2 linked regions of the Homo sapiens genome follow. The protein of the gene in region 1 purifies or fractionates together with the protein of each later gene. This does not show direct contact. Each region holds a gene or a part of one and is shown on either strand. Other genes may lie near its edges.

Region 1 (3,811 bases):
GGGGAGGGAACACAACTGAGGACCACTGTCTCTCGCAGGAGAAAGAACAAATTCCAGAGTGCCCAGCAAAGAAACTAGAATGACGCTACCCTGTAGGCTCTAGACCTGCAAGACGGCAGCAGCTTGAGCAGTTCAGAGTCCATACACGCCAGACCTTGTTCTTCCAGCCCATCTGAAAGTCCGTCAAGACAGGCGACTCTTGTCTTGAAAGGGAGCTGGTTCTGTCGCCTTAGCTCAGGGTCTAATTATAGGAAGCACGCTTACTTTGAGAACGGGGACCAGGCATTCTTATTTTTGTAGCCCAGTGTCTAGCACAGTGCCTAGCCAAGAGGGCACTCAGGAAACGTGGAATGACATGAGTGGCCAAATGAAGACATTGCCTCATCGGGGTATAGCTGCTGCTTGCTGGGTTCTACACACACACACAAACACACACACACACACACACACACGACAAACAACGGAGCCAAGAAAGTCTTCTTTGTGGCCATAACATGCATGGATTCAAAACCAATGCAAAACAAAAATCAAAACTGGAATTTGTTTAATGGCAAGTTTTTTTTTCTGGTTTTTTTTTTTTTTTTTTTTTTTTTTGAGATGAAGTCTCGCTCTGTTGTCCGGGCTGGAGTGCAATGGCGCGATCTCGGCTCACTGCAACCTCCGCCTCCCAGGTTCAAGTGATTCTCCTTCCTCAGCCTCCCAAGTAGCTGGGATTACAGGCACCCACCACCACGCCCAGCTAATTTTTGTATTTTTAGTAGAGACGGGGTTTTGCCATGTTGGCCAGGCTGGTCTCAAACTCCTGACCTCAGGTGATCTGCCCGCCTCGGCCTCCCAAAGTGCTGGGATTATAGGTGTGAGCCACCACGCCCAGCCAATAGCAAGTTTTAAAGCTTTTCATAACTTTTTTTTTTTTCATCTTTTTTAAAAAGCCGTGCCTTCCTTCATTCAACCAATATTCACAGAATACTTCTTTGTCATTCTGTGGATGAGTCCAAGAAAGGCTGGAGGAGGAAAGAGTTTCAGTCTGTGTGCCTGCCATGCAAAGGTCGGGCTTTACATGCAAGGCAAACAGAAGTGCTGAGGGATTATCAGGTGGGGAGACACACAGGTGTGAACTACAGAAAGACGTGGCTACTCCCTGTCTTTCTGCAGGCTTGCAGGCTCTGCGGCAGGCACCACGAAGAATGGGCTGGATCTTCCACTCCAATCAGCTAAACTTACCTCTCCCGCAGGATCCCAGTGTGACAAAAAACACCATGACCTAGCACCTGCACTGAGCTTTACACTTTGAAAACTGTGTTCCCTGCAAACCTGCCTGTATTTTCCAACTAGATGCACTAAAACGACCTGCAAGGGAGGCAGAATCGGCACTGCTACTCTTCTCTATTTCCGATGAGAAAACTGCAGCCCACCAGGAAGCTGCTGGGCTTGGAGGCTGAAGAGCAGGACCAGCCATGGCTGACGTGCAGAATGAACTGCAGAAGCTCCTCCATCAAATACTTACTGAGCACCTACTGTGTTTCTGGCAATGGGAATACAGTGGTGAACAGAAGAGCATACATCCCTGCCCACTTGGGGCCTACATTCTGATGAGGGAAGAGAGACCATAAACAATACAAATAATACTATAAATATAAGTAAAATATGTAAACAATATAAATAAACGATGGTGTGTGTTACGAAGTAACAACTGCTGGGGAGAAAAACAAAGCAGCAATGGGCAATAGGGAAATGTGAGGCAGGGGAGAGTAATCTCATTTTTTTTTTTTTTTTTTTGAGACAGGGTCTTGCTCTGTTGCCCAGGCTGGAGTGCGGTGGTCCAATCATAGCTCACTACAGCCTCGACCTCCCAGGCTCAAGCAATTCCCCCACCTCAGCCTCCCAAGAAGCTGAGACCACTGGCGCATACCACTATACCAAGCTAATGTTTTTATTTTTTGTACCTATGGGGTCTCGCTATGTTGCCCAGGCTGGTCTCCAACTCCTGGCCTCAAGTGATCCTCCCACCTCGGCCTCTCAAGGTATTGGGATTACAGGCGTGAGCCACTGAGCTCGGCCTAAACTCACTTTTAACTTGGGCAGTCTGGGATCTCAAGGAAGAGGAGACATCCAGGTCCCTGAACCAAGGCAGTAAGTAGCTGTGGGGAGGGAGAGAAGGAAACACATTCAAGAAGTACTACAGATACAGCCACAGGCAGGCCTTCCCTGCATACAGGGCAGCAGTGGGAGAAAAGCTGATGACCATCCCAGGGTGCAGAAGGAGGCAGAAGGGCAGGCCCGAGGGGAAGCCAGGACCACCATTCTGGCCACACTGAGTCTGAGGAGGCTCCGAGGCAACTGGAGATTCAGCTCCAGAAAGTCTGGGCCCAAGATAGTGATCTGGGAGCCATCAGGTCCCAGGAGGAAACTGAGGCATGTGTGCTGGGGAAAATGAGGTGGAAGGGCACATTCCTGAGGAGAAGCCATGCCCAAAGAGGAAAACTGAGGATCGCAGGGCCAACCCCCTCTCGGAGGTGCCCCTGGCAGGAACAGAGGCAGCAGGGTGGGCCAGGAAGATGATGGGTAGCCAGAAGTCTCTGTGAGGCTGCGGCTGGGCAGTGCAAAAGCCAGGAAGCAGGGGTGGCAGTGAGGAAGTAGAGACCAGTGTCAATAGTTCTTTCAGAACATGTGTTGTTTTAAGGAGGAAAAAAAGGGGCAACAGTTTGTTTATGGGAAGAAACATTGGGGGTGCATGTGAGGTCAAGGTGAGAAGTCTGGGGTTTATTTAAGACAGGATGGGCTTGGATCTGTAGAAACACTTTTGAGAAAAACTCAATGGAGCAGGAAGCCTAAAGATCCTGGAACCGAGTCACTCAAGAGTGAGGGGACAAAAATGACATCACCATCACCATTTATTGACAACGTACGCACCACGCACTGTGGCAAGAACTTTACATATGTTGCCTCATTTAATTCTTACAACAACCCTATAAAATAGCTCTTGGTATTTGATATGGTTTGGCTGCGTCCCCACTCAAATCTCATCTTGAATAGTGGCTCCCATAATTCCCACGTGTTATGGGAGGGACCCAGTGGGAGGTAATTGAATCATGGGGGCAGTTTCCCCCACACTGTTCTCATGGTAGTGAATAAGTCTCACGAGATCTGATGATTTTATATGGGGAAAACCCCTTTCACTGGGTTCTGTCCTCTTTCTTGTCTGTTACCATGTAAGATGTGCCTTTTGCCTTCTGCCATGATTGTGAGGCCTTCCCAGCCACGTGGAACTGTGGGTCCATTAAACCTCTTTCTGTATAAATTACGCAGTCTCAGGTATGTCTTTATCAGCAGCTTGAAAACAGACTAATACAGTATTCATATCCCCACTTTGCAGAGAAGGAACCTGAGCTTAGAGAGGTTAGGTAATGTGCCCAGGTGTGCAGCCAGTATTCAAATCCTGGTGTCAAGGTGGTTTGTATACATCTCCCTTCTCTGCCACATTGATATACCTTAAAGGAATGAAGACACCTGTTCCCTTATAGTGGGGGTAGAAGGCAAGAGAGTTTGGAAGGACAGTGACAGGAAGATGGGTTTGATTGAGGTCCTGGTTTCCCTATGACATGGAAGCAAGATGCCAGGCTGAGGCTGACAACAATAGGGTGGGGAGCTAAGGGGCAACAGGACCCTCGTGAAGGATGCAAGCAGCTGCCCAGACATGTGGAGCTGAGGCCAGGGAGCATGCGCATTGGAGGCAGTGTGAATGTCCCCTGAAGGGCTTCGCTGCCCAAGGGACAGATGGGCTGTCCAGGACCCAGGTGGGGCAAGCCAG
Region 2 (3,811 bases), on another chromosome or scaffold:
GGGCTTGACCAGCTGGTGCGGCCGACCTCTTCAAACTCCCCCACCAGGACGCCTGAACACGGTTACCCTACAGAGGCATCCCTGGGGCTCCTCCTTCCCCCACCAAGGCCAATCCAAGGAGCAAAAGCAGTCCCAGCGATGCGGGTGCATTGAGCAGGTCCCCCCGAAAGGCTCTCAGCCAGGTCACCAGGTCACCGGCATGGTAACCCCAGGGGCTGTTGGTGACATCCACACAGCCTTTGTCCAGCTCCCTCCCCCAGTTCCCCAGTCCTGCAGGCTGAGGAGCCAGGCGCCAGGCCTGCTGGGCCCCTCCACACACAGCAATGTGCTTCAGACTCTCCTGAAGCCCAGTCCCGGCCTCCCAGGCTCTCACCTGCTGGAAGGGGTTGGCGGCGCGGGGCGAGCAGGCCAGGTAGTACTGCAGGATGTCTGCGGAGAGACATCAGGGAAGGCTGAGCTGCAACAGCTGTCCCTGTGAGACTGCGTGCACGTCTGCCTGTGTCTGCACGCATATCTTCAGGGCATCTGCGTGCATGTTTACATGTGTGCATGTGTGTCTGTGTGCACCTGTTTACACATGTGCATGTGTCTGCATGTTTACTTACACGTGCATGTGTCTCTGTGCACGTTTCGTGTGCACGTGTGCCGGTGTGCATGTGTCTGTGTGTTTATATGTGTGCATGTCTGTGTGTACATGTCTTCGCATGTGTGTCTGCATGCATTTACACACATGCCTATGTCTGTGTGTGTGGCAGTGGGGTCTGGGCTCCCATCAAGCCAGAGTCCCCACACACTGCCCCTTGCCTGGGTTCCACCTTCCGAACTCTTTACAAGTTCAGTTCTTCCAATTATAAAAGAACATTAAAAAAAAACATTTTAAAAGTTCAAAAAATGATGAAAGTATTTAACAACATAGGAGAGCACCAGGCATCACTGTGGCCGCCTGTGCAGTGAAGCCAGCGTGGCTGGCCTTGCTGCCTTCTGGGAGGGGCTGTCTGGCCCGCAGGCTGGAGCTCACACTTACGTGTGTACATGTACACGTGTAGGGGGCGCTGCTCATACTTGATGAGATCCCCCCAAAGGCCGCCGGCTACAGTAGGGACCTGGAGGGACCAGGATGATAGCACCGGGGCCAAGGACAGTGGTGGGTAGCACTGAGCGGTCACCAGCCCTCCCCGCCCCTAGCAGAGCGGGCCCACCCCTCCACCCTCGCCCCCGAGGACAAGGTCAGTGGGCGGCAGATGACTTTTCCTCCAGGAGGCTCTTCAGGCTTTGGTGGAAGTGGTTCCTTCAACAAAGGCAGGTAAAAAACCAGCCCACAAGCCAATCCTGTGGCCTCCAGGGACAAAGGGTGGCAGGATGGTCACCTTCAAGGTCATTCAGTAACCCTCACCCCCACAGGGACAGGCCTTCTATTTCCTATTGGGGAACACACAATAATTCCACAAGGGGGGCCTGAGAAGCTTAACACACTGACGGCACCCCGATCTCCAGATTCCCACGTCCACCTGCCTCTGTGCCGTCCGACACACATCGCAAACCTCCCGAGGGGGCCGAAACTCCCGATGCCCCAGCTCCCTGCCCCCCACCTCCAGACCTGCTCCCCCACCCACAGTACAGCTTATGGTCCCGCAGCACAGAGCTGCTGAAACCAGGGACGCCAACTCCTGCTCCGTCCCTCTCGCTCCCTACATCCAACTGACCGGGAAGTCCTGCCAGCTCCGCCCTCAAAGCCCATCCCTGTCCACCTTTTGCTCCATTTATTCAAGCCCCTGCTGTCTCCTGCTTGAGGTATCCTCCTCACCCACTCTTGTAACCCTTGAGGCCTGAGGAAGCTTTGAAAGGGACCTTCAATCATGGGTCAAATCTCTCCCCTGCCTCCCTCCCTCCAATGGCCTCCCCCTGGAATAAAGCGAAGCTTGCCACAGAGACTCAGCCCCACTGGCCTCCCACCCTCCATTCTCCCCTCGGGTCTGCCTCCTGCCTCGGGGCTCTTAGAAGAGATGCAGCGTCCTTCTGGCTCTACTTTTTTTTTTTGAGATGGAGTTTCACTCTTGTTGCCCAGGCTGGAATGCAGTGGTGCGATCTCGGCTCATTGCAACCTCCACCTCCTGGGTTCAGGCAATTCTCGTGCCTCAGTCTCCGGAGTAGCTGGGATTACAGGCACCCACGACCACACCCAGCTCATTTGTGTATTTTTAGTAGAGACAGGGTTTTGCTATGTTGGCCAGACTGCTCTTGAACTCCTGACCTCAGGTGATCCACCCGCCTCGGCCTCCCAAAGTGCTAGGATTACAGGTGTGAGCCACTGCACCCAGACCTCTGGCTGTACTTTAATGCCACCCATTTGGCCTCCCCTGGGCATCTACTCGAAGCAGCCCTGGGTCACCTGCCGCTCCCCCTGCCACGCGGGCACCCGCCACCCCACATAGTTCCTGTCATTCTTTGCAGAGCCTCCCACTTGGGAAAGGTGGTCCTGTTTGCTCACTAGCATCTTGGCCTGGGACCTGTCTCCCTGAGACCATGGACCCACAGGGCAGGGGTGTCTCGGCCTCAGCTACCCCACTCTTTTGGCTCAGCCCAACCCTGGGGAACCCGCTGGGACACGGCCGTGGACACAGACTCACCCCCACTCAGCACCGAGTACTCCTCCACCATTTTGGTCACGTAGGCGTCAGGGTCCACACAGAAGTCGCTGGAGCCCTGAGGTGGGCGTGGGCAAGCAAGAGGGGTTGACCAAGCTGGGCCTAAAGGGAAGCTCTCGGGGGTAGAACCCGTCCCCTGGAGTCTGCTTTCAACTCAGGAGGGTGGACTGTGAATCTGGGGTTACAGGTGGACTGTGCCCATGGTGGGTCCCCACCGCTCTCGGGACCCAGTGCCCGGGAAGATGGGAGGGGAGAGGAGTGTGGCTTCCCCTCGTCCCTCCCCCAGTGCCCAGGTCCAGCAGCCGGGGACCTCACCCCCTCTGCCACTCACCACGGACACAGCCAGCTCCAAGCCCAGCGCGCCCCAGCTGATGACCAGGGCCAGGACTCCCAGCAGGCAGACCCTGGGGCAGAGACAGCCAGTCAGCAGCCCCCAGGCCAGGGTGGGGGCCGTGCCACCTGCTGGGCTGCAGGCCAGAAGGCAGGTCCCAGTGCACATCAGGGGTCAGCCCACACATGGGCTGGGGCTCTTCCTGTGGCCTGGCCTCAGCCAGAGCTGCCCACAGCCCAGGGCCCAGATGGATCCCTCTCCTAGGTGGGGTGGGGCTCAGAGATCTGAGCTGGAAGCAGGACTGGAGGGCCACGTGGCTCTTGGGGCCCCGCCCCTCCTGTCCCCCAGGTCCCTCTCCTGAACAGGCAACAGTGTCCACTTTCACGTGGGTCCCCGCATCCCGCCGCCCACGTAGCAGCCCAAGGGGCCTGATAACGTCAGCTAGATCAAGCCCTCCTGTGCTGAACCCTCGCTCAGCAACTGGGGACTCAGAGCTCTTGCTACGGCACTGGCCTCTCCCTCATCTGAGGCCTCACCTCACCCACATCTGGCTCCCTTTGATCCAGATACACAGGCCTCCTGTGCATACCCCACTGCAGGTGCCCCCACCACGAGTCCCCCATATCCCAGTTCAGATCCCCAAAACACACCCCAGTGCAGGCCCCACACCCCACTGCGGGCCCCACACCCCACTGCGGGCCCCACACCCCACTGCGGGCCCCACACCCCACTGCAGGCCTGCACACCCCACTGAGGACCCCACAACCCACTGCACACTGTCATCCTTCCTGTCTGTCCAGGCGTCCCTTACTCCCTTGGGCCCCTGCTCAATCCC

Evidence for each region.
Region 2: the proteins of SLC25A37 (region 1) and TTYH3 purify together in Homo sapiens (affinity purification with mass spectrometry; one large-scale study listed by BioGRID and IntAct). This does not show direct contact.

Annotation. Positions count from the first base shown.
Region 1 is NC_000008.11:23,535,164-23,538,974, reverse strand, and holds part of SLC25A37 (mitoferrin-1), read right to left. Parts: intron 2,142-3,811; exon of another isoform or gene 2,071-2,141; intron 1-2,070. UniProt on the Homo sapiens protein: Mitochondrial iron transporter that specifically mediates iron uptake in developing erythroid cells, thereby playing an essential role in heme biosynthesis.
Region 2 is NC_000007.14:2,648,805-2,652,615, reverse strand, and holds part of TTYH3 (protein tweety homolog 3), read right to left. Parts: intron 3,050-3,811; coding exon 2,977-3,049; intron 2,704-2,976; coding exon 2,628-2,703; intron 430-2,627; coding exon 374-429; intron 1-373. UniProt on the Homo sapiens protein: Calcium-independent, swelling-dependent volume-regulated anion channel (VRAC-swell) which plays a pivotal role in the process of regulatory volume decrease (RVD) in the brain through the efflux of anions like chloride and organic osmolytes like glutamate.